Linked DNA regions of Homo sapiens. The protein of the gene in region 2 interacts with the protein of the main gene of each other region in a pairwise test. Each region holds a gene or a part of one and is shown on either strand. Other genes may lie near its edges. The genes, in order: BHLHE40, MTCL2, AMOTL2 and HDAC7.

What was found.
Region 1: the proteins of MTCL2 (region 2) and BHLHE40 interact in binary tests that used the Homo sapiens proteins (3 or more experiments, as listed by UniProt).
Region 3: the proteins of MTCL2 (region 2) and AMOTL2 interact in binary tests that used the Homo sapiens proteins (3 or more experiments, as listed by UniProt).
Region 4: the proteins of MTCL2 (region 2) and HDAC7 interact in binary tests that used the Homo sapiens proteins (3 or more experiments, as listed by UniProt).

The regions. Positions count from the first base shown.
Region 1 is NC_000003.12:4,981,481-4,985,823, forward strand, and holds the end of BHLHE40 (class E basic helix-loop-helix protein 40), read left to right. Parts: coding exon 1-35; intron 36-1,355; coding exon 1,356-2,212; 3' UTR 2,213-3,843; downstream 3,844-4,343. UniProt on the Homo sapiens protein: Transcriptional repressor involved in the regulation of the circadian rhythm by negatively regulating the activity of the clock genes and clock-controlled genes.
Region 2 is NC_000020.11:36,859,845-36,868,794, forward strand, and holds the start of MTCL2 (microtubule cross-linking factor 2), read right to left. Parts: upstream 3,695-8,950; 5' UTR 3,501-3,694; coding exon 2,814-3,500; intron 30-2,813; exon of another isoform or gene 1-29. UniProt on the Homo sapiens protein: Microtubule-associated factor that enables integration of the centrosomal and Golgi-associated microtubules on the Golgi membrane, supporting directional migration. Preferentially acts on the perinuclear microtubules accumulated around the Golgi.
Region 3 is NC_000003.12:134,357,448-134,365,381, forward strand, and holds part of AMOTL2 (angiomotin-like protein 2), read right to left. Parts: intron 4,361-7,934; coding exon 4,065-4,360; intron 2,967-4,064; coding exon 2,659-2,966; intron 2,057-2,658; coding exon 1,836-2,056; intron 1,273-1,835; coding exon 1,093-1,272; intron 317-1,092; coding exon 258-316; 3' UTR 1-257. UniProt on the Homo sapiens protein: Regulates the translocation of phosphorylated SRC to peripheral cell-matrix adhesion sites. Required for proper architecture of actin filaments.
Region 4 is NC_000012.12:47,809,462-47,817,417, forward strand, and holds part of HDAC7 (histone deacetylase 7), read right to left. Parts: intron 6,193-7,956; exon of another isoform or gene 5,214-6,192; coding exon of another isoform or gene 5,174-5,213; exon of another isoform or gene 3,620-5,173; coding exon of another isoform or gene 3,469-3,619; intron 1,493-3,468; exon of another isoform or gene 1,474-1,492; intron 1-1,473. UniProt on the Homo sapiens protein: Responsible for the deacetylation of lysine residues on the N-terminal part of the core histones (H2A, H2B, H3 and H4).

The DNA.
Region 1 (4,343 bases), on a different chromosome or scaffold from region 2:
GAAAATCATTGCCCTGCAGAGTGGTTTACAAGCTGGTGAGTGCTGATTCTGGCTATGCTCTCTTTAAGAGTTTGAGTGCAAATAGAGAGCCCGTGGGCTCAACATCTGATGTAATAAACATTACTGCAACAAATTGCTTATGCACGTTCATTGGGGGAGATGCAGTTTTATCTTTCCTAAAAGGTCAGACTTTTCATTTGAAATGCATTGTGCCACCTGGCATGAATACGTATTAGTGAAATGATAAGATATTCCTGTGGCATTTTAGCTTGAGAGTCTCTGGGTTCTGGGAGATTTCCCTACTCCCTTTTAAAATGCCAAGGCACCTATAATTTGCATTGTGGGTGTTTTACAGTTGGTCTTCTTAGCCCTCTTTCATTGGAGAAGAAATCATGGGTATGCCCCAGCGTTTTCCTGTTTCTTTGCTTCCTTGTCACTTGGTGTGTGGTGTGATCCTGGCAGGATACAGCAGGAGTTTTTCCTGCATTTCATGTGGTTCCCTGAATAGCCACTAGGTATCTTGGTGAATTGCACAATCTAGCGAAACCACTGAAGTTTCATCATTCGTTTCTACTGACTTCCAGATAATCGGAGTCAACCTTCTAACCTTCTAGTCTCACTTCTTCCAAATAATACTGTACAGACTGGGGAGAATTATTCTACCCACTCCCTCATTTCATGCTTGTCTGCCTTCCTCTCGAAGGCTCGTATGATGAAAATTGCAAAAACCCAGCTAGTGCTTCTGCCTGTTTCCTCATTCAAAATAGGAAGATGGTCATACCTAATGTCTTGAGGATCATGGATAGAATATGTGGAGAAGACATAGAAATAGCCTAATTAAAGGTCACAGCATGACTGCAACTTTTACAAATCATTGAAAATAAGTTTACTTTAGGTGATTGTTGTTTCTTCATTCTTTTCCTCATTTTATAACTATCCAGCCTCTGCCCATTTTGCCACGGTGCAATGTTGTATGCATTGACTCTTAGGTTTATAAATACATCAGAATGTTCTTTGCTGCCTCGCTTACATGGAAAACTCACAAACCACCTATACAATCCAAAAGAGGGGAAACAGCTCATCTCATATTAATTATGGTCCATTTCCATGATAGGATATTATGCAACCATTAAAAATCATATTTTATCTGAGTGTTAGTATATGGATTATTTTAATTATTTATACTTTTCAGTGTAATTCTTCTCTGAGCATACTACTTTTGGAGTTAGGAACACAAATCAGTAAATGCATTTTTTTTTTTAACAAAAACTAAAGCACCTGGTTTTTTGGAGTATAGTTTCCAGGTGCGCCACAGGCCTTCTGAAACGTTTTCCTTCGGATTTTTCTTTCCCCAGGTGAGCTGTCAGGGAGAAATGTCGAAACAGGTCAAGAGATGTTCTGCTCAGGTTTCCAGACATGTGCCCGGGAGGTGCTTCAGTATCTGGCCAAGCACGAGAACACTCGGGACCTGAAGTCTTCGCAGCTTGTCACCCACCTCCACCGGGTGGTCTCGGAGCTGCTGCAGGGTGGTACCTCCAGGAAGCCATCAGACCCAGCTCCCAAAGTGATGGACTTCAAGGAAAAACCCAGCTCTCCGGCCAAAGGTTCGGAAGGTCCTGGGAAAAACTGCGTGCCAGTCATCCAGCGGACTTTCGCTCACTCGAGTGGGGAGCAGAGCGGCAGCGACACGGACACAGACAGTGGCTATGGAGGAGAATCGGAGAAGGGCGACTTGCGCAGTGAGCAGCCGTGCTTCAAAAGTGACCACGGACGCAGGTTCACGATGGGAGAAAGGATCGGCGCAATTAAGCAAGAGTCCGAAGAACCCCCCACAAAAAAGAACCGGATGCAGCTTTCGGATGATGAAGGCCATTTCACTAGCAGTGACCTGATCAGCTCCCCGTTCCTGGGCCCACACCCACACCAGCCTCCTTTCTGCCTGCCCTTCTACCTGATCCCACCTTCAGCGACTGCCTACCTGCCCATGCTGGAGAAGTGCTGGTATCCCACCTCAGTGCCAGTGCTATACCCAGGCCTCAACGCCTCTGCCGCAGCCCTCTCTAGCTTCATGAACCCAGACAAGATCTCGGCTCCCTTGCTCATGCCCCAGAGACTCCCTTCTCCCTTGCCAGCTCATCCGTCCGTCGACTCTTCTGTCTTGCTCCAAGCTCTGAAGCCAATCCCCCCTTTAAACTTAGAAACCAAAGACTAAACTCTCTAGGGGATCCTGCTGCTTTGCTTTCCTTCCTCGCTACTTCCTAAAAAGCAACAAAAAAGTTTTTGTGAATGCTGCAAGATTGTTGCATTGTGTATACTGAGATAATCTGAGGCATGGAGAGCAGATTCAGGGTGTGTGTGTGTGTGTGTGTGTGTGTATGTGCGTGTGCGTGCACATGTGTGCCTGCGTGTTGGTATAGGACTTTAAAGCTCCTTTTGGCATAGGGAAGTCACGAAGGATTGCTTGACATCAGGAGACTTGGGGGGGATTGTAGCAGACGTCTGGGCTTTTCCCCACCCAGAGAATAGCCCCCTTCGATACACATCAGCTGGATTTTCAAAAGCTTCAAAGTCTTGGTCTGTGAGTCACTCTTCAGTTTGGGAGCTGGGTCTGTGGCTTTGATCAGAAGGTACTTTCAAAAGAGGGCTTTCCAGGGCTCAGCTCCCAACCAGCTGTTAGGACCCCACCCTTTTGCCTTTATTGTCGACGTGACTCACCAGACGTCGGGGAGAGAGAGCAGTCAGACCGAGCTTTCTGCTAACATGGGGAGGTAGCAGGCACTGGCATAGCACGGTAGTGGTTTGGGGAGGTTTCCGCAGGTCTGCTCCCCACCCCTGCCTCGGAAGAATAAAGAGAATGTAGTTCCCTACTCAGGCTTTCGTAGTGATTAGCTTACTAAGGAACTGAAAATGGGCCCCTTGTACAAGCTGAGCTGCCCCGGAGGGAGGGAGGAGTTCCCTGGGCTTCTGGCACCTGTTTCTAGGCCTAACCATTAGTACTTACTGTGCAGGGAACCAAACCAAGGTCTGAGAAATGCGGACACCCCGAGCGAGCACCCCAAAGTGCACAAAGCTGAGTAAAAAGCTGCCCCCTTCAAACAGAACTAGACTCAGTTTTCAATTCCATCCTAAAACTCCTTTTAACCAAGCTTAGCTTCTCAAAGGCCTAACCAAGCCTTGGCACCGCCAGATCCTTTCTGTAGGCTAATTCCTCTTGCCCAACGGCATATGGAGTGTCCTTATTGCTAAAAAGGATTCCGTCTCCTTCAAAGAAGTTTTATTTTTGGTCCAGAGTACTTGTTTTCCCGATGTGTCCAGCCAGCTCCGCAGCAGCTTTTCAAAATGCACTATGCCTGATTGCTGATCGTGTTTTAACTTTTTCTTTTCCTGTTTTTATTTTGGTATTAAGTCGTTGCCTTTATTTGTAAAGCTGTTATAAATATATATTATATAAATATATTAAAAAGGAAAATGTTTCAGATGTTTATTTGTATAATTACTTGATTCACACAGTGAGAAAAAATGAATGTATTCCTGTTTTTGAAGAGAAGAATAATTTTTTTTTTCTCTAGGGAGAGGTACAGTGTTTATATTTTGGAGCCTTCCTGAAGGTGTAAAATTGTAAATATTTTTATCTATGAGTAAATGTTAAGTAGTTGTTTTAAAATACTTAATAAAATAATTCTTTTCCTGTGGAAGAGAAAGATGGTCTCCTGAGTTTTTTAAAATAGCTCACTTGGTGTGATATGGCTGACTCCCATGTCCTTCTTTCTTGGCTGAAGCAAACCAGTTAATCTCAGTGTAATTTCATTCAGCTTTTCATGTGCTTTGTATTCAATCAGAATAAGCTTAGTCAACCTGGCAGGTAAATATTGGTTCAATTTTTGTTTAACCCTTGCCAGGGGTTCATGATCATCCTCTACCTCTTTCCAGAGTTAAGTAAAAAGCATATTTTCCCCTGCCTGCTTTCATCGTGGTCCTTGGAACTTGACAGAAAACCAAGGTATGACACCGTGGGCAGCAGTGTCTGGGGAGCCTGCTGGAGGGAGAGGCACATTGAGAAAAGATTTACTGGATTATTATGCAATACTAATTGATGCTAGGATAGCACCTCTTTGCCAAAGCAGTCTAGCTTTTTCAAATCTAGCAAGGTCTAATGGATTTGCCATATCCTGTCTTATTCCTGCTGGAGGCAACATTCCATAATTATTTTCTACATCCTTCCTGGACTTCCTCTCCGGTATGTTTGTGCGTGAATGCATATTGGGTGTTCCTTCGACAAGTGCTCTTATTTAAAAAAAAAAAAAAAAAATTCCATGGGAAAGGTGGGAAATGACCCTGTCGTG
Region 2 (8,950 bases):
AAGTAGTCCAGAAAGGCAGAAAACACATCAAGAGTCTAACACATGCTTACTCCAAGCCCTGGCAGCCTAGCGACCCTGCTCTGGGACCCACTCTGGCCACAGTTTTCCCATCTGTGGAATAAACAACACAACACCTCCAGTAATAACCCCTCTATTTATGGTCCACATTTAGTCTCTGGATTTTGACCCTGCCTCTGTGAGGCTGGCGGCTGGGATAAACAGATATACAGAGAAGTTAAGGGACTAACCCAAATGTACACAGTGAGAAGTGGCATGGGCTGGCCTTGCTCTCCTCTCTTACCCACACTCCTTCCCCTCTCTGGCCTTAGCGCTGTTCTTGAACTCAACGAGCATTCCAATTTCCCTTAGCCTGAAATCTTCTTACTCCAGACCCTCACTCAGTTGGCTCCACGGCATCCTGCAGCCCTCAGCCTCCCTGTGCACCCCAGCCCCCACCTTCGTGTGCTCCTGGCAAACTGTCCCCTTTACCCTCATTATGATCTGTGTTGTGATTTCTTGTATGACTATTGTTTAATTCTGGTCTCCCCAAAAGCTCTATGAAAACAGACACCTCATCCTCCCTTGTCCACAGCTGTATCCCAGATCTGCCCTAGCACACGGCAGGTTCTAAATAAACAGCTGCCGAATGAACCAATGAGGGGCCAGGAGAAAGAGCCCAGCCTGCCTTGGGTGATGAAGAGGATCTATTCTGCCCTCACAGAATCCACAAGAGAACAGGCTGGGTGCACATGGAAACATGTCCCGTGCCTCTGACAAGAGCAGTGATCAGAGGTTTACTACATACCAGGTGCTCTAATGGTGTTTGCAGGAATCAGCTCATTTAACCGTTGAGGTTGGAAAGCGTGTTACTGTCCCATTTTTACAAATGAGAAAGCAAAGGTCCAGGGCCTTTAAGTAACTTGCCAAAGATCACGCCGTCAGGAAGCGACAGACCCCAGATCCAATAGCAGCACGAAGCCTGAGCCACTGAATGAATGGTGGAAATTACGGTTCCATCTTGGCCCAAACGTGGGATGTCCCCAGCTGGACCCCGGCCCCTGTGAGATCCCGGGCTCAACCCCCAGCCTCCTGGGACTGTTTTCCCCTTTAAACAGTCATGGGTGCCTCAAACAGACTTTGGGTCAGAGCCTGATGACTTCCTGGGATGGACAGGGGCCCATGGAGATGGGTGCCTAGGAGCCCTGAAGCAAAGCTCTGCAACCCATCCCCCTTCACCAGAGTGAGTAGCAGGAACCGGGAGGCAGGGGTGAGGAACTCAGAGTTTCGGTTAAGGCCAATTCAGGCAGCACTCACTGGAAGCAGCTCAGAGCACCAAGAGGGCAGGAGCAAAAGACCCTTGTCCTGGCTCGTCACCTCCCTCCTCCTCCTCACCTTCCACTTGCCCTCTCCTTACCACCGGCTTCTGAAGACTCAAAGAGCCGACTGAACTCCCAGTTGCCAACACCGAACCCGGCCCTTGGGAAGACATCCTCCCATTTAACGGATGAGGAGACTGAGGCCTGGCTTGGGGAAAGGTGTCTCTTGATTCAGACAGACCTTGTCCTTCCATACTACAAGCATTTACAGAACTCAGGCTGGAGAGCAGATCCCGGGGAAAATGGGGAGACAGAGACATAGTTGAGCAAGACACCAACACTCTAATGAGGGAGAAGCCCATTTGGTCAGAAGAGCCACAAGGAAAAGTTAAAACCTAAGTGCTGAGGGCAGACATAAACCAGCAGCATGCTGTGAGCTCCACAGCCAGGGGCACTCTGGGTGTTGTGCCAGGCCATCATCCACTGACAAGAGTCGGCAACATTTCAGCCTCCTCCAAAACCGTGCCCAGCCAGCGGCAGGAGAGCTCAGGAAGCTTCCAGCCTCCCAGGGAGAGGTCAACACGTGCAAGCTGGGCTGTCCCTAAAGCTGCCATGGCACCTGGAAGCGTGCAGATGGAGCCCGGCTGGCACCCAGTAGGTGCTCATGTCCACTGAAAAAGCAAAGGCAAAGCCTGCTGTCCGGGGGAAGCCCTAGGGTCCCCACATGGCCACAGGGAAGTCCTGTTCCAGGTGGGCAGTTGCCCTCCTCTCACTGCGAACATGGAAAGGCACTGGCCACGAGGGGCCAATGGGGCTGTTGTGTGCACAAGGTCTGCCCCAGGGAGGGCAAAAGACACTGTCCTGGGATTTAGGAAGCTGCCTCTGAACCGGTTCTCCCACGACATCATCCTCCAGGCTGTGGGACCGTTAGGCTGGGCGGAAGTGGACTCCAGCCAAGGGGATGTTCCCAGATGTCATGCTTTCAAACTGGACCCGCCCAGAAAGGCAGGCAGAGACAGGCCTGCGCCCGGGAAAGCCCTGGGTAACGACTCAGGATGGCATTCAGGCCTTTCCTGGGCAGGGGATGGCCACAGGTTTCCCTGGCGGCGGTGTCTATCAATCCCGTCCCAAGAAGGAGAGCCTGGGCGTGGAGGTTCTGGGCAGCTGAAGGCAGAGATCCATCCCTTCCCTGGCTACCCACCCCCACCTCAGCAACGCCTCCCAGAACGCTCCAAAGCTTTCTCAAGTCCCCGCTCCCAGGTTAGGGCCCTGTAGCCAGTTCCAAGGTCTTTTTCAGGAGCGCGCTTCCCAAATAAAGTTGAGAGGGGGCGGGGGGAATGAGGGAGCCCCAGATCCACCTCAGAGTGGTCCCCAGAGGGCTTGGGCCCCTTTCTCCGGATTGTTCAGTGGGAAGGAGGGCCGGCTGGTGCCTCAGGCCCGCGGGACTGTGACAGCCGGCGACCCCTGCGACCTCCCTTTCTACCCGGGCGCCCCCACCTTGAGATAGTCGTTCTCCGAGCGCAGCTCCTCCAGCTCCCGCACCAAGCCGCTGGGCCCGCAGTCCAGCATCTCCTCGGTGAGGTCGGAGAAGGCAAGCGAGGCGCTGAGCGGCAAGCGGCTGCTGCCCACCGACGACGCGGCCACCGACGGCTCGTCCGGGGAGGCGGGCGGCCGCGGGGGCTGCTGCGCGGAGGGCGCGGGCTGGGCCGGCTGCCCCGTACGGACCCCCGCCGGGCCCCCGGCCGCGGACTCGGCGTCGCTGCTCAGCGCCAGCTCCAGGCCCAGCAGGCGCGCCTCCTCCGACGCGCAGTCCGACACCTCCGAGCTGCTATCCGTGAGGCTGGGGGGCGGCGGTGGCGGTCGCGGCCCCGCACCCGAGCGCGGACGGCCCTTGGCACGGACCCCGGTGCGGACCCCGGCCACCCGCACACCCGCACCGCGCGCCCCGGGAGCCACTGCGCGCCCCTTCTTGTCCGGCCGTGAGGAGAACGCGGCGCTGCAGGCGACTGCTGAGCCCGGGCCTGGGCCGCGGCGGCCCTTAGCCAGCGACCAGCCGGCCACGTCTTTGGGCCGGGCCGGCGACGGCGCGCGGTGGCTCTTTTTCCTCTCCGGGGCAGGCGCGGGTGCAGGCGCGGGCTGGGGACCGCAGCCCCGGACCGGGGGCTCGGCCGCCGGCGCCTCCATCGCGGCCTCCCTCGGCCTCAGCGAGCTGCGCGCATGGCCCAGGCCCGCCCGGCCTCGACGTCCCTGGGGAGGGACCCGGCGCGGCTCCGGCCGCTGGGGCTGCGGCTGCTCTCGGCCCACCTCGGCCCCGACACCGCGTCCCCGTCCCAAGCCCCGCCGCGCGGTCTCTCCGCTGCTCTGGGCTCGGAGAGTGCGGCCCGACCGCCTCCAGGCGCCCCGGCTCCGGCTGCGGCTCCGCCCGGCGCCCGCCCCCTCGGCCTCGCCGCGCCCCCGGAGCGCGCCCGGGCCCCCGCCGCCCGCACGCCGATCGCTCCCTCGGGCTCCGAGTCCGGCTGCGGCCCGGGCCCCGGCTCCGCCCGGCGCAGCCCGCCCCCCGCGCAGCCCCGCCAGCTCCCCGCCCCGCCGCCTCGGCTCGGGGGCGCGCGGTTCCGCGAACAAAAGGCGGACGCGGCGGGAGCGGCAGGGAGGGACGCAGGCAGGGAGCGAGGGAGGGATCTGCGAGGCAACAGCGACCCCTTCGAGGGTCAGGCTGGCGCGGGCAGCCGCGGCCCGGGCTCCCTCCTCCTCCGCTCCGCCGCCTCCTCCCCTGCCCGCTCGGGGAAGGCACCCGGCGGAGGCGCCCCTGCGCCCGGCGTCCGGGCAGGGCCTGCGAGAGCGGCGGGAGCCGGGACTCCCGGGCCGAGGCCGGGCGGACCTCAGTTCGCAGGAACCCGCATCCATGCACGCCCAGCGCCTCGCCCCTCGCCCCGTGCCGAGCGTGCGCGAACTCCGCCCCCTTAGCCGGCATCGCCGGAGCCGCGATCCCATCGCACAGATGCGTAAACTGAAGCCTGGGGTGCACGCGCCAAGCTCACGGTCTAGGCGGCGCCGATGGGACCCAAAGCTCACACCTCCCGGGCGCGCTCGGGCTCCCCCTGCCTCGGCTTCCCTCTCCTGGCATAGGGACCGTGAAGCCCTGTGTGCATGCCTGGCTCGCGCACCTTGACCGGCGGATATTTCTCCCCATGCGCCCCCGACCCGGGTTTCAGGCTCTGTACGGCTAAAATGGAAGCGACCCGTAGCTAGGCGCGGTGGCTCATGCCTGTAATCCCAGCACTTTGGGAGGCCGAGGCGGGTGGATCACGAGGTCAGGAGTTCGAGACCAGCCTGACCAACATGATGAAACCCCGTCTCTACTAAAAATACACAAATTAGCCGGGCGTGGTAGCGCGTGCCTGTAATCCCAGCTACTCGGGAGGCTGAGGCAGGAGAATCGCTTGAACCCGGGAGGCGGAGGTTGCAGTGAGCCGAGGTCGCGCCACTGCACTCCAGTCTGGGTGGCAGAGCTAGACTCCATCTCAAAAAAATAAACAAATAAATAAAAACAAAAATAAAATGGAGGGGACCTATTACGAGATGTCAGCCTAGCGGATGCTTTGGAAGGCGGTTTTGGCCCCCGTGGGGGCTGGCATGGGCTGGGACGGTTGCCCTGACCCCACACGTCCCCACCAGGAGCAGTGCAGGAGGACTTGAGCTCTGATGGGCGTGTTTTCTTTCCTCCCGGGCGTCTGGGCGTCTCCTTGGCTCCTGGCCGTGTTGATTTTCCCATGTCTCTCACACCTTCCCCAGCCCCCACACCGCCTGGCCGCTACGCCCCCATCCCTGAGCCACCGCAGGGCAGAGCTGGATTGAGTGCTTTGCCCCACAGATGTACCCTCGTCCTTAGGGTGCCCCACACCCCTTGCCACCAGAAGGGCAGGGCTGTTTTTGCCCCTTTACAACCTCTTTCTCCTCCTGTTCTCTCCTCCCCCTCCCATTTATCCCCTGCTCTTTCTTCCTCCTTCTTCTCCCATCTTTCCCCTTCCTTTCCCCCCTCCTTTTCCAAGTCTTCCTTTTCCTCCTCTTTCCCCTCTTCTTCCTCCTGCCCATTTTCTCCTTCTTCTTCCTCCCCCAATTCCCTTCCTTCACCTCTGCACCTGCCTGTGACACAGCAGGCACCAGGTCCACTTCTTTGTCTCTGTCCCACCTCCCCCACACGCTGTGAATACACTCCTGGGGCATCCCCTCTCTCCAGAGGCATGACTTCATCTGGATCCAGGTGAGTGAGTGCTCCTCCACCCCAACGCTAGGTGCCCTCCATACGGCCAAGTGAGGAGCAGGCACTCAGCAGGCTCTTGGCAAACACTTCCGCAGGGGCATCCCCACCCCCTCCTAGCAAGACACCAGCTCCCCTCACGGCCCACTGACTGTCCACAAACCCTGTTTGCACAGGCGCCAGGTACACTGAGGGACGCAGTGGTGGGCATGTCAGTGCCTGAACTCATGGAGCACACAGTGTGTGTTGGGGGGGACCACAAAAGACTCAGCACAAACAGGGTGGCATGGCATGTGGGCAGGAGTGCTGGAGAAGGATGTGGGAGCCGCAGGCTAGTGACCCAGGGCAGGCCTTCCCACATTCCGGGCCTCAGAGTCCCCACCTGCTCTGGTCTAATGTAACAGATGACAGGGTCCATCCAGCTCAGATGCCCCTGGCTCTAGTAGGCTGCATCTAGTCTGGCACAGAAAGATGCTGTGAAGCTCTTGGAAAGTGTGTCCTCTCTCTGTGCTTCAGTTTCTGCCCCTGTGCAGAACATAGGTTTGGAGGTGTTGGGTGGTGTGAATGCAGGGACATAGCAGACCAGGCTGGCTCAGCCACTCCTGACACACCCTTGGTCACATCAGTGGTCCTGAGATTAGAGTGGCCTGCATCTCTCTTCTAGGGCAGGGATCTGAGTCCTGGCTCTACCACCTATCCTCTCTGGGCCCAACACTCATGGCTGGCCAGGGAGGGGCCTGTGGGTCCCACCTGCTCTGAGGTGCTTTGGATTTGGGGAGTCAAGAATCTACATTGTAGACCCAGGGAAGCCTTGAGAACAACAGGGCTCTGGTGGGGAGGGACTAGGTGGGGCTGACGTAGGGGCTGTGGACTCAGGGTCAGTTCAGACCAGGGATACCACAAAGGAGATAAGACTTGTTGAGAGTCCAGAACTGGCTACATTGTAGACGGGGTGACCGTCCTTGCGCCGGCACATCCTGCAGCTGTGTGATGCGTGGCCTCTTCCTGTGTGCCGGGCTCTGTGCTCCACATTTCAGTAAAGGATCTCCAAAAGGTGAAGATACTTCTTGTGACTGATTAATATTTTCCAAAGGGTATATCTCATCCCAATTGCTCTTCTTACAATGTGACACTGATGCTCCTCCAATTGAGCGGCACATGTGTGCGGCACGTGTGTGGGGGCACTGTGTGCCCCCACCTTGAATCTCAGCAGATCTTGTGACTGTCTCAACCAACAGAGTATGGCAGAAGTGTTCATCTGTGACTTCCAAGGTTAGGTCATAAAAAGCAACATGGATTCCACCCAGCTTGCTTCTCTCTCTCTTTCTCTCTCTCTGTCTCTCTGGCCACTCACCCACCATGATAGGAGGAAGCCCAGGCCTCATGGGGAGACCGCATGAAGGTGATCTAGCCAACAACTCCAGCTCTGGTCCCCACTAACCACCAGACATGTGAGAGAGTGAGCCTGCAGATGATTCAGCCCCCAGACTTGGAGCTGCCCCAGTGGACAAGTGGAGCAGAAATGAGCTGTCTCACCAACCCTGCCCAAACTGCAAAATAAGTATTGTTGTTTTCGGCCACTAAGTTTTGGGGTCATTTGTTACATAACACTGGGTAGCTGGAATGTGTGACCAAGGTCACACAGCTTGGATGTGGCAGGGCTGGGATTGACTTGAACCCAGAGCTGCCCAATTCCAGGGCCTGTTGTGGTACCCTATTGGGCTGCGAAGTGCCCAGCACAGACACACAGTGTGTGCTGCAGAAAGCGCTACTCAAAAGAGACTGAAGCATTACCTTGTAAGAATTATATAACATAGGAAGTGAAGATGCTGATTACCCAAGTAGAAAAACGGTTTCATTTCTCCCATTCAAGCTGCTAAATTGACCAACGTGATGAAAACTGAATGGAGACTCACTCCTGGAAAGCTTCCAAGAGGAGGTGTGTTTTTTCCTTTTAAACTAAAGTTGTTTTGTTTTGTTTTTTCATTATACAGATTAAAAAACAAGCAACTGGCTATGGGAAAATTAGAGGAATCGGTCGGGAAACCTCATTAAATAGGGGAGTCAGGAAGGCCTCTCAGAGAAGGCAGCCTTTTTTGTTTTTGTTTTTGTTTTTTGTTTTTTGTTTGAGATGGAGCCTAGCTTTGTTGCCAGGCTGGAGTGCAGTGGTGCAATCTTGGCTCACTCCAACCTCTGCCTCCTGGGTTCAAGCGATTCTCCTGCCTCAGCCTCCCAAGTAATTGGGATTACAGGCATGCGCCACCATGCCCAGCTAATTTTTGTATTTTTAGTAGAGACGGGGGTTTCACCATGCTGGCCAGGATGGTCTCGATATCCTGACCTTGTGATCTGCCCACCTTGGCCTCCCAAAGAGCTGGGATTACAGGTGTGAGCCACTGCACCCAGCCAAGGAGGCAGCCTTTAAACTGAGTTATTCTTTTTTTTTTTTTTTTTTTTTTTTTGAGACAGAGCTGTCGCCCAGGCTGGAGTGCAGTGGCGCGATCTTGGCTCACTGCAAGCTCCACCTCCCAGGTCCACGCCATTCTCCTGCCTCAGCCTCCAGAGTAGCTGGGACTACAGGCGCCCGCCACCACACCTGGCTAATTTTTTTGTATTTTTAGTAGAGACGGGGTTTCACTGTGTTAGCCAGGACGGTCTCGATCTCCTGACCTTGTGATCTACCCGCCTCGGCCTCCCAAAGTGTTGGGATTACAGGTGTGAGCCACTGTGCCTGGCCTAAACTGAGTTATTCAAGGAGCCACTGAACAGTTAGGGCCTTGCCTTTTTTTTTTTTTTTTGAGACAGTGTTGCTCAGGCTGGAGTGCTGTGGTGTGATCTTGGCTCACGGCAACCTCCACCTCCCAGGTTCAAGCAATTCTCTTGTCTCAGCCCCCTGAGTGTTGGGATTACAGGCGCCCACCACCACACCTGGCTAATTTTTTTTTGTATTTTTAGTAGAGACGGAGTTTGACTATTTTGACCAGGCTGGTCTCTAACTCCTGACCTCAAGATCTGCCTGCCTTGGCCTCCCAAAGTGCTGGGATTACAGGTGTGAGCCACCATGCCCGGCTGCTGCTTTTTCTTTTTTCTTTCTTTTTTTTGAGACAGAGTCTCACTCTGTTGCCCAGGCTGGAGTGCAGTTGCACGATCTCAGCTCACTGCAACCTCCACCTCCCAAGCTCAAATGATTCTCCTGCCTCAGCCTCCCGAGTAGCTGGGATTACAGGTGCGTGCCACCACGCCTAGCTAATTTTTTTTTTTTTTTTTGAGATGGAGTGTCACTCTGCCGCCCAGGCTAGAGTGCAGTGATGCCATCTCAGTTCACTGCAACCTCCACCTCTTGGGTTCAAGCAATTCTCCTGCCTCAGCCTCACAA
Region 3 (7,934 bases), on a different chromosome or scaffold from region 2:
CTGAATCCTCATTCTCCATAAGGCCCGGAGGAATGTGGGCTAAGAAGCAGAGTCTTCTGGGGGTGCCGGTGCTCTCACAGCTCTCCTCTCCCCTGGGGTCCTCCTCCTGAGCTCCTGGGACCAGATGGTCAATGGGAATGAGTGTCTGGCTGGGGAAAGGGACGGAGCAGCGGTTGACGGGGCTGCTGAAATGGCTGAGAGTGGCACAGGGCAGAGGAGGGGAGAGAATGGCTCAGAGTCCTGAAGCACCACCTCCTTCAGATCAGTATCTCCACCATGTCTGACAAGTCCTGGACTCTGGATGTAGCTACAGAGTCTGGAGACAGACAAGAACACAGGCACATGCCAATGAGTGTTACTAGATTGCTTTTAAAATCCTGGCACATTTGAAAGACAAAGATCGTTCTTCACCAACTTTTCCCACCTCTGCTGCCCAGGTTCCCAGAACTCGGCCAACCAAGCACAATGCTCTGCCCCCTTTCAGTGCTCAGCCCAGCCCACCAACCTCCGATGTGTAGGATGCATTTGTTTCTAACTTTGAACTGGTTGGAGGGCTTAGAGAGAGCAATGGAGAGCCCTGAGGGAGGCAGGCTGCAGCATTCTTTTCATGCCTGTGGTTTTCTGAGATCATGAGGCACAGGCAAATATGCAAAGGCCAATGTGAAAGGGGAGTGGAAAAAGAAATGGCATCTTCTCAGATTTCTCCTTCCCGGACTCTTTAAACAGGCTTCCAGAGTGCCATCGGCATGACTTGCGAGCTCCATTCTCTTGGATAATCAAATTGGAAATTAACTATGTAGGGAAGACCATGAAAGAGGAGCTAAAGTGCCTCCCATCTGGTTGCTTTCTTTCTGAATTCTGGATCTGCCTCTAATCAGGGTTTCCAATTTCCCTATTCATGCAACCAGCCATCCCTCATGTTCACATTGAGGTGGGCCAGGCACCCTGCTCACCTCTGGCTATGCACGGCTCCCCATGGAGTGCGGGCAATGACCCGGAGGGGGTCTGGGAAGAAAAGGCCTTGTGTTCCAGTTCACACCCCAGTGCCCCCTCGGCCCTACCTAGCACAGAAGTGGGGTCAGGAGGACTTACCCAGAGAGGCTGCTCTCTGGCTACTGCTGCACCCCAGAAGGCTGTCAGGCTCCGGTGGCAGGCAGGTGGAGGTGCTGTCTGGGGGGCCCTCAGTCTGGGTGCTCCCATCTCTGCTCCCGTGTTTGGCATGGGCAGCAGGGGGAGCTGTGACCACTGGCTCCTCTGTGGGTGCTCTGTCTGCTGGAAAGGTAGGTGGATGGTTATTGCCATGCCTGTAAGATGTGGCCCTGGTGAAGGACACTCTAAGTTAACTGTCCCTGCTGGGGATTCAAGGTGGAGTGGGCTGCTCTTGATTTGCAAGAACTTTAAGACTAAAAATGCTCCTATTTTCAAATGGGAATAACTACCAGATTGGATTGGCTTCCAAATGTTTTGGGTGGTGGGACCCTTCCTTATAGATTAAATCTTCTAGAGTTTCTGTGGCATCTGCTTAGAAGGAAGAGTGGAGGGAGCTTGCATACAAGGTGTATCTGCACAGGAAGCTCTATTTTTCTTAGTTCAGTGGCTGGGGCTGAAGCATGATAGAATTTATGGTGATGGGGACTAAGTACCCCTCTTCACACTGGCAGGAGAGCCTTGCGCTGTAGAGTCACTAGAGGCAGAGAATAAGCCAGCTCCCCTGGAAGAGGGTCAGGAAGCCCTGGCTCCTATAGCCTCAGTTCTGGGAGGAAAGGTCTGGCAATCTGTGTTCAGGCCCAGGAGAAATTACCTCTCAATCTATCCCAGCAGTAGCCTCCTCTTACCTGTAGTCAGCCGAGCAGGGGCGTCTGCTGTTTGTCGCTCACTAGAAGAGAGCCCTTGCCAGCCCTGGGTTCCTGCTGCCGCAGCCGCGAAAACAGATGGCACCGACTTGGCAGGCCGCAGGGAGCCCTGGATGGCCTTGCCAGGGTCTCTCCTGGAGCGCTGCTGAAGGACCTTGATCACTGCATCCTTCTCCAGGATCTGGGCATGGAGCACCTTTAACCTGAGGGGTGAGAGGCCATGCCCACATTGTCAGACCCACAGATCCAACAGCCTCCACCCTTCCTGCCTCATAGGAGTTAGAGGAAAAGCCCCCCCCAACTCCCCCAACCCTGCCAGGCTGGATCCTTCTGTGCTTGTAGCAGGGACCCAGAGAGGGCTTAGAAATGGCACCACAGCTCTGGAATTTGATGCTCTTAGAGCCCAGGCTCTGAAAACCACCAGTGCATAAGGCCCTGGGCCCTTCTCACACCAGCAAAGGCAGGCCATTAAGGATGGGTTCCAGATTCATCAGATGATAGTGGCGGCACAGCCCTCATCCTGGAGGGCGGCACTCCGGAGAGGGGAGGCAGGGCCCAAGCACTGGATGGCACCCAACACCTCCACAGTAAGAGTCTCCTGGGCAGACCAAGGACTCGGTATTTCTGGGCAAATGCATGTTTACAGTGCCTGGTGTGCCAATCATGCAGGTTCAGCTCAGAAGCAGGAGGGACTGCTGAGCTCTATGGGGAAAGGGGCCTGTTTATCAGGGATCAAGGGCAGGGCAGTGACTGGACATTGCCACCCACCCCCCCAACCTCAGGTGCCTGGCCTGCAATGCCGAACCTGCTTTCCATCTCCTGATGCCTGTGGCCACCAGTGAGCAGACCCTCATTGAAGCTGCTGCTGGGTGAGGGCTGGGGGGAATGTCGGATGAGAGTGGTGTCACGCTGAGCAGCAGCCGTGGCAGCCGCATCCATGGCAAACTGCCTCATGGCACGTTCCTCCAAATACTTCTGCTCCCACTTGGTCATGTCGGCCTCCAGCGCCAGGATCTGCTCCTCCTTCTCTCGCAGTTGTTCTGACAGTCGCAGGGCGCTGAGCTCTGGAGACCCACCACTGCCACTGCTACCACCTGGGGCACCTGCCTGTCTCTGCAGAGCAAGGAGTAGAGACCGTGGTCAAGGGTGCAGGTTGGGGTGTGGCAGCCACTGGTCTTCGCCTCCACACGACTGTCACTTGTACATGTACGTGTTCAGCCATACACAGCATACATTTCCCCATCCTTCCTCTACCGAAATGGGGATACAGCACAGGTCCCCATACCCCTGCCCTGAATCCTAGGGCAAGGGCATAGAGACCAGACAGATAATCCTCCAAACTGGCAAAGGGGGTGCTATCAATAATTATACTGGGAAAACTGGTGTACATTAGAACAGAACTGGGCAAACCAGGGGGTTCAGTCACACTACCTCTGTGGCAAGGGTAGGTTTGGGAGTGGAGAAATAACTCTATTTGGTTTGTAAACACCAAGAGTTGTTTACACAGAAGTCCGAAGTGAGGCTAAGCACAGTGGATCTGGACAACCATCTTTCCTCCCAATCTTGGGGAGGCATATAAAAGCTGGCTGGTGGCCAGACGCAGTGGCTCATGCCTGTAATCCCAGCACTTTGGGAGGCCAAGGTCGGCGGACCACGTGAGGTCAGGGGTTCAAGACCAGCCTGGCCAATATGGTGAAACCTCATCTCTACTAAAAATACAAAAATTAGCTGGGCGTGGTGGCGCACGCCTGTAGTCTCAGCTACTCGGGAGGCTGAGGCAAGAGAATGGCTTGAACCTGGGAGGTGGAAGTTGCAGTGAGCGTTCGCGCCACTGCACTCCAGCCTGGGCGACAGAATGAGATTCCATCTCAAAAAAAAAAAAGCTCGCAGGCCTTCTATATCCAGGTTCCTGACTTACTTTCTCTAGAGGTCAAGGACAACTAGCCCTGCTGCTGCCGAGGACAGGAGTCCCCCGAGGCTGGACATGGGCCAGGTGGCAGGGCCTCTACTAAGACAACGAGTGGAAGGGAGCACGCAGCAAAGGTGGAGCAGAGAGCAATCATCCTCGCCGCCTTCCAACGGGCCTGCAGCCTAGATCTAAGCAGGGGCTCCCGGGGCCTCAGCCCTGGCCTCCAAACCTACAGTCCCCGAGGAGGAAGGGAAGCCAACATCCTCAGATGCTGCCCTAGCCTGGAGACTTTCTCAGCTCACCTGCTGTGCACGCAGGGCCTTGAGTTCCTGCTCCAGGCGAGTCCGCAGACGCAGCTCCAGCTGCTCCCGCTTCTCACAGGCTGCCTGCAGCTGCCCGAGCGCCTGCTGCAGCCGCTCCACTTTCTCCACATAGGCCTGCTTCTTGCGCAGCTCCTCTTCGGCTCGAGCTGCCCGGCCCTGCGCATTGCCCAGAGCCTGCTCCAGCAGCTCGGCACGCCGCCGCTGGTCCTCGATGGCGCCGCGCAGCAGTGCCATCTCTCGCTCCAGCTTCTCTTGCTCCTGCTGCTGTTCGTAGCCTGTAGGGAGAAAGAGGCTTGATCAGTGACAGTGACCACGTTGGCTGGCCCCATTGCCTCCTGGGCTCAGTGCTGACCACTGGATGAGCACAGTTGCTTCTCATTCTCTCAAAAATAACAGGAATAAGGTACCACTATTAACCCTGTTTCATGGAAGAAGAAACCAAGGCTCATGTTAAGTCAGGAGTAAATGACAGAGCCCAATTCCAGGACCCTTGCAGTAACAACTGGGCTACCCTGCCTTTCTACTGGGACATACTGCCATGGGACAGCCCCAAACACCATCCACTTGTGCCAGGGGCACCATGTCTAAAACACATCCACAATATCCCTTGAACCTTGTGACGGCTCGAGACTGTTGAGGTAGGAACTGTGATGCCCATGTACAGATGAGAAAATAGAGACTCAGGTAGGCTGTGACATGGTCCTCCTTCCAGTGGGAGAATGAAAGAAGGGGGAACAGAACCACCATCGGCTGTCGGCACACCAGGCCCTTACACATCTTATTCCACGAATCCTCCAGCCCCTCCAGGGAGGATTTGGGATCCCCAACTTATAGGGGAGAAACATAGGAGGTGAATGGTGCTGCCAAATGGAAACCCCAGTTGGCCACACTACAAAGGCCCAGGCTGCCTCTGGCTACATGGTGAGGCGTTTGTACTTATAGGCCACCCAGAGCTCTGGGGCTCCTTCTGCAGACCCAGGCCGAGAGGTCCGTTGAGGGCTACATTTCCTTCCATGGTCTGAAAAGAACACTGAGATGTAAGCAACCAGGCTCAGAAGGAAATGCAAAGTCTGCAGTACAGTGAAAATGACTATGGCCCAAAGATTAGTGTGTAAGGGTCAAGCTATCCTGACTTTTAAATCATTTTGTTAATTGCCCAAAGAAACTGCTCAGAGGCCCTCTCCATAGGGCCAGGAGAAGCCCAAGCCAGACCACAGAGCCCTCCATCTGATGTTCTAGCCTTAAATCCACCTCCCAGGCACCTGCCCCTTGAGAGTCCCAGGCTGCCCCCTGAGGAGCAGGTCAGCTGCCTACCTTGCTGGAGAGCAGGTGGGGGGCAGGGCTATGGGCTCCCGCTAATGAACCTAAAGGCACTGTCTCTAGAACAGCATTCTGATTCAGTGGAATTTTCTGCCAGAGTGGAATTGTTCTATACGGCACCCTCCAATGCAGTGGCTACTAGACACACGTGCCACTGAGGACTGGAAATGTGGCTAGTAAGATGGGAGAACTGAATTTTAAATTTAATTTATTTTCATTAATTTCAATCTTTGGGCCACATGCAGCTAAGTACCTATCATATAGGACAGTGCAAGTTCTGGAACAGAAGGGTGAAGGCTTGAGACCTTGGCATGTGGAAGGGAGGATTCATTTACTCAGGTCCCTGGGGCAGGGCAGGGAGGACACAGAGGCAACTCAGGTTAGCTCTTGATTCATTTTGGATGTTTGAAGGCTGAGCCCAGGATGGTATCATTCTGTGGCATGGAGGAAAATACGAGGAAGTCCAATAATATTGAAACGGATGTGTTCATACTTCGCTGGCTTAACATCCATTGAGTGGGGTGTTAACATCCATTGAGGAGGGGCAGCCAGGTTGGGACTCAGGCAGGGAGGACCCTCCCCTAGTCCACCTGTGCGTTCAGTTTGCCCAGGGCCTGCATCTCATTTCAGCCTTAGCATGACTCTGTGGGGAAGGACTCTGTCTCATCTTATAGCTGGAGAATCTGGGGCGCAGGGAGAGAAGAAATATTCCCAAGGGGGTGGAGCTAACAGGCCAGCCTCAGGCCTCAAGGCCAGATCCCCAGGGGGCACTGCTGGCCTAGAAGGGCCAGAAGGGCAGTGCTGGGGGGCTGCGTGGCTTGCCTAGGAGGAAAAGCAGATGGCATTGGTGATAATGGCCACACTTTCCTAGTGTTGACTGACCCCAGATAAAAGGGAGGTCAATCAGACACCTCCCTTTGCAATAGCTACTAGGGAGCAAGGAAGAGCTGCTTGGGTTTCCTCAGCCCTGGGGGAGGAAGGGGCCGGAGGACCCAGCCCTCTGCTTCCAGAAGCTTCCTGCAGCCTTGTCCAACCTCTAAGGCCCTGGTGGGGGCTGGGAGGCTTTGAGCTCTGGCCATCCCCTACCAACAGGACCCTGATAAAACCTTGGGCCTGCGGGATCTCGGGAAGGAGAGCTCCTTAGTAAGAAATAAGTGGTCTGGGTGCGGGTGGGAAGAGGACGCCCGAAGGCCAGCGGAGGAGGGCAGGAAGGCAGGCGAGGCGCCGACGGGACCCGGGATGCGCCTTGGGCAGCGAGCGAGCCCCCACCTCCACGTTCCAGGCTCCCTTTGTGCTCACCCTCCCTCCTCCCAAAGCCGGGCGAAGGGCGCCAGGCAGCGCGCACGGGAGGGAGCGGCGGGGGGCGGGCCGGGAGCGGAACAGCTCGCGGCTCTGGAATGCCAGGCATCCAGGTCACCCGCGGCTGCAAGATTAATGGCTCCAGCGAGGAGCCAAGAACAGCTCGGCGCTCACTCGCTCCCCGGGGAGCGGAAACGCCTCCCGGCCGGCCCCCCTCTTCTCACCCACTAGCAAGCTCCCAGAAACCCGCCCCATGGCTTCCTTTCTTTGGCAGAGTCAGGCTCCAGAAGTCCGCCTTCCTCCACAGGCACCCTAATCTGCCGTGCCCTTGCAGCTTCTCCTCCCCAGACTCCTCAGGGAAACCCCAGGGCTGCCCCCTCCCCTTTCTCCCTCCTTCCCTTTGACTCCTTCCCAGAGACCTTAAGCCGCTGCCATCTCACCCCACCCAGCCAGAAGAGACCAGCCTACCTCCTGCCCCACCCTGTCAATTCCTTCAGTGCTGTGTTCCCCCATTCCCTGCCCTAGTCTTTGAACCCTCTTTGAAGGAAGATAGGGGTGCTGCCAGCCAGAGCTAAGTCCTCAAGCTGCTCCTCCATTTCTGCACCCCACACTACCCTTTGTGCCATTCACAGTAGGGTTCCTGTGAAGACTCAAAGCCATGTTTACCCAGCTACCAACCACTCCCATTCCACTTCTCTGCAAACACCTTGAACAGCACTAAAGCTCCTAGTAGGAGCTCAATAAATAACTGTTCTTAGTCTCTTCTGATTGCTAGAGCCTCCTGCTGCTGAGCTCAGGGCTCCCTTTGCCACCCACCCCATGTACCTCTTGAACTGCCCAATAGCTCCTTCACCTCTGGCTGGCTCTCCACCCCTGCCATCCCCACAGAGCCCCTCTCTCAGGCCACCGGGGCTCCTAATCACCGGTTTCTAGGGCCACCCCCGTTGTTCTTTTGCATCTGTGGGAACCTGCTCCTTTCTTAAGCTCACCACTTCCTTCCTGACCTCCCTGCCATGGTACCTTCCTGGGCCTGCTCCCATTCTCTCTTGAACATCTGCCAGTTGCTTAAAACACATCTGCTAATGAATGAATAAATGGACTAGTCAATGAACTTGCCCATTCTTCAAGGATGCTTAGACCGCCCCGTTTAGAATGCATCTGTTGGTTAAGGTCTAGGATCCCATTTTTGGCTGCCTCAGATGCCTCCACTTGGCTTGCTATGGCTCAGCT
Region 4 (7,956 bases), on a different chromosome or scaffold from region 2:
ATAATATTAATAATGATCAACAATCATGTGTTAATGCTTACTGTGTGCTGGCTATTATCCTAGGCATTTTTGGCGGGGGGAGGGCAACATCCTCCCACTAAGCGATTTTTATTTATTTATTTATTTTGAGATGGAGTCCCACTCTGTCACCCAGGCTGGAGTACAGTGGCACGATCTTGGCTCACTTCAACCTCTGCCTCCCGGGTTCAAGTGATTCTCCTGCCTCAGCCTCCTAAGTAGCTGGGATTACAGGCGTGCGCCAACATGCCTGGCTAATTTTTGTATATTTAGTAGAGACGGGGTTTCACCCTGTTGATTAGTCTGGTCTCGAACTCCCAGCCTCAAGTGATCCGCCCACCTCTGCCTCCCAAAGTACTGGGATTACAGGCCTGAGCCACCACACCAGGCCCCCACTAAACATTTTAATTGTACTATTGCAAGTAGTCCTCACAACTCTGTAAGGCAGATACTGTTTTTTTGTTTGTTTGTTTTGTTTTGTTTTTGAGACAGAATTTCACTCTGTCACCCAGACTGGAGTGCAGTGGCACAATCTCAGCTGACTGCAACCTCTGCCTCCCGGATTCAAGTGATTCTCCTGCCTCAGCCTCCCAAGTAGCTGGGATTACAGGTGCAAGCCACCATGCCCAGCTAATTTTTGTATTTTGGTAGAGACGGTGTTTCACTATGTTGGCCAGGCTGGTCTCAAACTCCTGAACTCACTGAATCCACCCACCCTGGCCTCCCAAAGTGCTGGGATTACAGGCGTGAACCACTGCGCCCGGCCTATATACTGTTATTATTCTCATTTTGCAAATGAGGAAACTAAGGCTAAGAGAGGTTCAGAAACTTGCTGAGGTCACACAGATGGTATGTGGAGCTGCTGGGACTCCAGAACCTAAGCTTAGCATCGGTACACTGGCGTGGACTGCTTACTCAGCCTGCCTCCTAGTAGTGGCTGAGGTGAGACCACCAAGGGGACAAGGGGATGCAAGACACAGTGAGGCCCTAGGGTATGCTCCCAATGCCAGCCTGTTCCCACAAAGTGTGCTGTGTTCCACCCCTGCCATCCTCAATTCCTTTTTCATCTTCTATTTCCCTTCCTTTTTAAATGTACATTTTACCATTTTAAAGTGTACCATTTAAACACTTTACAGTGTTTCCTGTTAGCTGCCTCCAGCAGGGTATAACTAAACAAGCAAACCTCCCAGGGCTGCCACAGAGGATCAAACGCTGCGTGAGCTCTCTGGAAACTGTCAAGCCCTCTACAAAATGCGGGTTGCATAACCAGAGCAAGTCACCCTCAGAGTGGGTACTCGGGGGTAAATTCTCTTGGGAGGAAAAGGTCTCTCTCTCTCTCTCTCTCTCTCTCTCTCTCTCTCTCTCTCTATCTCTATCTCTGTCTCTCACTCACGGGCAGGCCTTGGGCAGGTGGAAGCGCTGGAAGCACCCACAAGTGCAAAAGGGAGCACCTACCTTCAGGGCCACTTTCTGGGGACTAGGAACACAGCCGCACGGCTATCAGCATCCCTGGATCTGGGGCAGAGGAAGGCAGAAGCCACAATGGAGACCCTGGTCTGCACTCAGTAAGAACCAGGCAAACCGAACTGAGGCATCTCGGATGTGAATAGCCACAAGCTGTGAATCCTGACACTCACAGGGATGCCACATTAACATTAATGACAGTAAATACCCTAGAGGTCCCATCCCAGTGGTGCCCTAGAATCCCCCTCCTTTTGCCTATTACTTTGGAAGACAGCAGAAGTCTAGTGGGCAGATTCTCCACGTGACCTGATTCCCTTTTGCAGCCAGGCTGCCCTTGAGACTTGGTTGAAGGGGTTTTTCCAGATCACAAATCCAGCTAGGGTGCTTACACTGCCTTCAGGTCACTCAACAGACAGATGGCATGGTCCTGGGTACTGATTTGGACAAACCAGCTGTAAGGACAATTTCTGGCCAACTGGGAATTCCGTTAAGATGAAAATTTACTGTAATGGAAGGTGGAAATCACTGACTGAAAAAACAGTATATGCAGAGTAATCTCATTTTCATAAAAATTACAACACATAAAGACACATACGGAAATGGAAAGATGTGCAGTGATCTCTGACTGATGCGTCTGTGATGTTTTTTATTTTTTAGTTTTTGCTGGTCTGTCCTGTCTGAGTATCCACAATGCACATGGACTGCCTCTGTAATAATTACGCAGCATATATACGTACATAGACACAGCCCATGGTAGCAAAGTCAAAGTGTGACCTCGGGCTCCCGTGAGCATTAGTCCACAGGGTTTTCACCGCCCCCGGGTCTTCTTGGACCATATATCCTCTGAGGTTCCGTGTTATCTACAACCTAGCGTCCTCTGCCCCTCCTGAGTCTCGCCAAGGGCCTATAACACAGAGCTGGGCACAAAGTCAGGACTTACTTAATGAATGCCTTCTGGCTGAATAATGATCATTTCCTGAAAGAAATGCCTCATGCCTCTTCCAGAGCCGCTGTGCTGGGAATACTCACTGCTGACATCACTGACCTGCCCACCCCTCCTCTGTTCTTCATAAGAGCAACAAGGGAAGGGCTAAAATAAAGTTCACCCCAGCAGATGCTGGCAAGGTACTCCACATCAGGGCCATCAGGGGCAGCCCCATCCCAGACCCTCCCCAAGCTGGCACAGCAGCCCCTCTCCAGGGCCAGCTGGCTTCAAGGCCCTGGGGTCCCTCCTCGCCCTGCCTCACTGGGAGAGGCTGGGAGAGGGAGTGAACAAGAGAAGCAGGGGTCCACCCTATGACTTCTGGCTACAGCTCTCTGGCTGTTCCAGGCCGCGATGGGTGGAGGAATCTGGAACAGGGATTTGGCCTGGTTTTTTCTGTGAACTGGGGCTAGGCCCAGTTTCTGTTCTTCGTGTCTGCAACATTCCCTATCCCTGACCTTCAAAAAATATGAACAATAACATTAATAATGATGATGAATATTCAGTGAGCCCTGACTTCATACCAGGCACAGAGCTAACTTTATTTACATTATCTCCTTTAATCTTCATAGCAACTCCATAAAGTTGAAACTGTAATTATTTTCACATTACAGATGAAGAAGTGGAGGCACAGAGCAAAATGTGCCCATAATCACACTTGCAGGAGAAACCGAGACTCAGCCAAGGCCATCCCATTCCTCCCTCTGCGTCCTTACAGGAAGCTCTCCTGCCAGGCTTTGCCATATATACAGTAGGGTCTAAGGCGATAATTAACATCTGTAGAGTGCTTTAAGCACTAAGTGGGGCACAGAGAAAAGCCCCACTTGAAACTAGGAAATCGAGTCTCAGAGCCATCAGCATCCTTACTCAAGATCCCACACCTTTCGACTAAGATTCAAACCCAGATCTCTGGCGTCAGAATGGCACATTTCTTCCCTATTATCACACGATGCCCCTGGCTCACTCTCAAGGCGGCCCCGGCTGCCTGGAAGGGAGAGTCACACCTCCTTCAGCGCTGGAATCTGGGGGGCGAGGCCTGCGCTCAGCCCCTCGCCCGGTGGGGGTGGGGTGCTGCGCCAGCACCTCCTCAGCGTCTCCGCCGTGACTCACTCCCGGGACCCAGGGGAAGCACAGCCCTGCGCTGCGGGCAAACATCGTCCGCCGCCCGCCCCGCCTCCAGCTCCCCGCCTCCACATTTGCTAACCGAAACAAGGCTGCTGCTATTTTTAACCCTCCAGCTCCCCCTTGCCTGGGGCTCCCCCCTTCACCTCCCCACCCCCCGCCCCAGCCGGGTGCCACCAGCCTGTCATTCTGAGAGCAGTTCTATAACCTGAACGCGCCTGGGAGGGCGCAGCGGACGTCCCGGACGTGCAGGTTTGTGGGGCAAGCAAAACAAGACGGTTACAGCCCAATCGCCGAATTCCCCCACCCCAGACTCTTTCCGAACCTGTCACTCCCAGACTGCCCTGCTCCTCCTGCCATTCTGGGGGTTGGGGTAGAGGGGAATGGGACTTCTGGGCTGGGGTCACCTCAGGAGCCAGAGCTAGGCTCCTTGGAATGGGTCCTGCAGGGAGGAAGCTGAACTGAAGGGGATTGGAGTTCCCCTACGGATCCCCAGGGTGAGAGGCTGACCCTATAGGCCCAAAGCTTCTGACCACCAGGGTTTACAATCCCTGCAGGCAAGATGGAGGAAAAAGGAAGTGGTGCGGAGACAGGGTGGGGATGGTGAGCTTAGCCCAGGGCCTTCCTGACGAGGAGAAGTCCCCTCCCCATCCTGCTGTGGGGGCTGTGGAGCTTGGGCGGGAAGGCCTGGGAGTCGGGAAGAGCACTGAGCAGCCTCCAGAGAGGCCCAGGGTGGAAGGCAGCCTTGGCAGTGTGCAGGGGGAAAAGCGGACCTGGAGTCAGGGCTCCTTTGACACTCAATAATCTAAGGCAAGGGCCAGGCAACACCTTCCTGCAGCCTGAAGCTCTGGGTCCCCAGAAAAACCTTCCTGGGAGAAGAGGTTGGAGGTGAGAGGGGCTGAGGCCTGCTGGCCTAGAGCCGGAACCTGACACCCAAGTTGCTGATGTGAAAGTTAACCTCCTGAGAGGGGTGAAGCGTAGAGCTGCAGGTGGACCAGACAGGGGCATTTCCTCCCAGCTGATGTAGAGCCCGTGTCTTGAATCAGCCCCATCTGGCCCTCTGGTCTCAGAGTCTCCCCCAGTTTGGGCAGCAGATTCCAAGGGCCCAGGAGAGACTCTGGAGAGCCCAGCCAAAGGGCCATCTGGGCTCAGGTTTTTCCCGTGTGCCTCTCCTGTCCCAGCCTCCATCCTCCCTTGAGCCCTGTCCTCTCTGGTCCCAACCCCAGCCTTCCTTTCTGGTTCTGTCCTCTCTTCCAGGGCCCAGGTCCCCTCTAGGCCTTGACCCCCTCTCTTTGGTGATTCCTGAGCCAAGTAAAGTAAAGTGGCCACAGAGGCAGCAGGCTAGACCAGAGGGAAGGGACTTGGCACAGTAGTTCCCCAACTGGGGAGATGGCGGAGAAGGGAAGGAGGTGGGAGGAAGGTGAAACAGGAGAGCTCCTGGGGAGATGCTGCCTCCTTCTCAACATTCAGTATGGCCACAGGGCCCTGGACTCAGCCCCATGGAAGAAAAAGGGTGCTCCCCAAGCAAGGGAGTGGCTTTGATCTTGGCCTTGTGCAGCTCCCCCTTCTGCTCTCCCCTCTGCCAACCTTTGGGGCTGCTTAAGGGGAGGAGACTGCCATCTTCCATGCCAAGTGAGAGGCTGGCAATTCAGCTCCAACCCTTAGCCATTGGTCAGCCCAGGGCCTCCACCTGCATCCAGGGAGTTCACAAGCACGGCTCCAGAGGCTCTGATGGCTCACTTCCAACCTGGGGAGGTGGGAGACGGCATCAATGTCACCTTCTTAGGCAGTCCTCCCCTGGCCACCCTATCAAAGGAAGTCCCACCTTGTTATTCTTTATTGCCATGCCCAGTTCATTTCCTTCTTAGGGCTTATCACAGTGTGTAACTAGTCACACATACTCATTCCTTTACTTGCCTACTTGTTCTGTTTGTCTTCTCCACGAGAGTGGAAGTTCCCTGAGGTCAGATGTTGTGCCTGTGTGTTCACTGCATATCTGTACCCAGTGCCTAGAACATTGCAAGGCTCAGCTAGGATCCAGTGAATGGATGAATTGCTGAGTGACTGGCTCAGCAACATGGTTCCCTGGTTGCCAACATTGACCTTTAGGGATGACACTCAACAGTTCCAGGATTTCTCCAAAAAGGAGGCAGCAGAATGTAGCAAGAAGAACAAGGTCAGAAAACAAGAAAGCCAGGACCCCAGAGGAAAGATCAGCCCCAATTAGCACCAGCCCAATCGGGTCCACGTCATCACAAAGTGTAGTTATGAGCACACATGCACACACACACACAGGGGGTACATGGGTGAGCACAAAGTCCTGGACAGGTCTTAGAAGCCTTGAGTTTTCTCTTGGTTCTTCCTCTTAATGGCCCTGTCACCTTAGAGAAACTACATACCTTCTGTGGGTCTATTTCCTCAAAAGAAAAAATGAAGAGGTTGACCCAGGGCAGTGGTCCTCAAACACAGCCTTGCCCCAGGATCACCTGAAGCACCTGTTAAAATCTGGATTCCCAGGCCCCACCCCTCAGATTCTGACTAGTCAATCTGGAATGGGCCTGATGATCTGAATGTTTTTAATTTTGAGACAGTCTCACTCTATTGCCCAGGCTGGAGTGAGGTGGCGCAATCTCGGCTCACTGCAACCTCCACCTCCTGGGCTCAAGCAATTCTTCTGCCTCAGCCTCCCAAATAGCTGGGACTACAGGCCTGCGCCACCATGCCTGGCTAAATTTGTATTTTTAGTAGAGATGGGGTTTTGCCCTGTTAGCCAGGCTCGTCTCGAACTCCTGCCTTCAAGTGATCTGCCTGTTTCAGCCTCCCAAAGCCACCGCGTCCAGCCAGGATTTTTTTTTTTTTTTTTTTTTACAGAGTCTTGCTGTCACCCAGGCTGGAGTGCAATGGCGTGATCTTGGCTCACCGCAACCTCTGCCTCCCGGGTTTAAGCAATTCTCCTGCCTCAGCCTCCCGAGTAGCTGGGATTACAGGCGCGCACGCCACACCTGGCTAATTTTTTGTATTTTTAGTAGAGACAGGGTTTCGCCGCATTGGCCAGGCTGGTCTTGAACTCCTGACCTCAGGTGATCCACCTGCCTCGGCCTCCCAAAGTGCTGGGATTACAGGCGTAAGTCACCGCGCCCGGCCCAGGATCTTTATCTTTAACACATTCCCCAGGTGACTCTGAAGCAAATGGTCCAGGAACCCGCATTTGAGAATCCCAAATGAGATGGTGTTTTACAAGCCAGCATCTGGACTTCTATTAAAAAGCCACTCCTGCCCAGATATATACCCCCAAAAAACATGTCCATACATATGGACATGTTTACCCCACACAGGGCCATAACCTGAAAAGGTGTGCACCATACAGATGATGCACATCTGTCTTTTATGTGTGCATATTCCCAAAACACCCAACACAGAACCACCACATAGATCACAAATTGCCCGGAACCACCACATCAGCATACACAGGGTCTGGGGGGAGGGGTACACACACAGATACCCACCACGCACCCAGTGTGTGCTCACACACATCTCATGCAGACCCACACTAAACAGACGCTGTCCTGAATTTATTTTGCCTCTGGGAACTGGTCCAGGACCAAAGGAGCTATGCTCTGCTGATGAAAACATCCCTCCCACCTCTGCCACCCCCACCCCTGCCCCTTGCCCCAGGCAGCATGCTACCCACCTCTCCCTTGTAGGAGGAGGGAGACTGGAGGAGGGCAGTGGGGATGGGTTGGGAGGAAACAAGAGGCTAGGCCAGCGACTCAAGTTGCTCAGGGCCCTTCCGGGCGTCCAGCTCCCCTCTTTCCCTCTCCCTTCCCCCCAGAAGACGCCAAAGGGCCTTCCCCCAGCCCGCGAGTCCATGCTCACTCAGGCCACTCGCCTAGATTCCCAGGCCCCTGATCCTAGGGAGCCAAAAGGGTTAGGGAGGTGGCTAGATCTGGGGACTCCTCCTAATACTCAGGCCTCTAAGGAAAGGGCTGTCTGGGGGCACCTTCCTGTAGCCCTAAGGCCTGGGGCCTCCAGGGAAGGTTACCACAGAAACAGGGGGAAAATATTACAAGGAAACACAATACCCGGCAGGGTCACCTGCTGACCGGGCTTCCTGCTGTGTTGCCCACCCCCAGCTCACTGCTCTCACAGCCTCCTTCTCCAGCCTTGGCCTGGGCCTCCTCACCAAGGCTCTCCTTCCTGCCTCCCCAGAGCTGGGAGAAGCAGTCTTAAGCAGAAACTCTGCCCCTCCGTGGTTCCAAACAACAACATCGAGGATGGCCCAGAGCTGAGCCCCCCACTCCTAATCCTTACCAACCCCTCCTCACCATCACCACAGGAAATCAAAGCTTCCTGCCCCAAAGGAAGTGCCC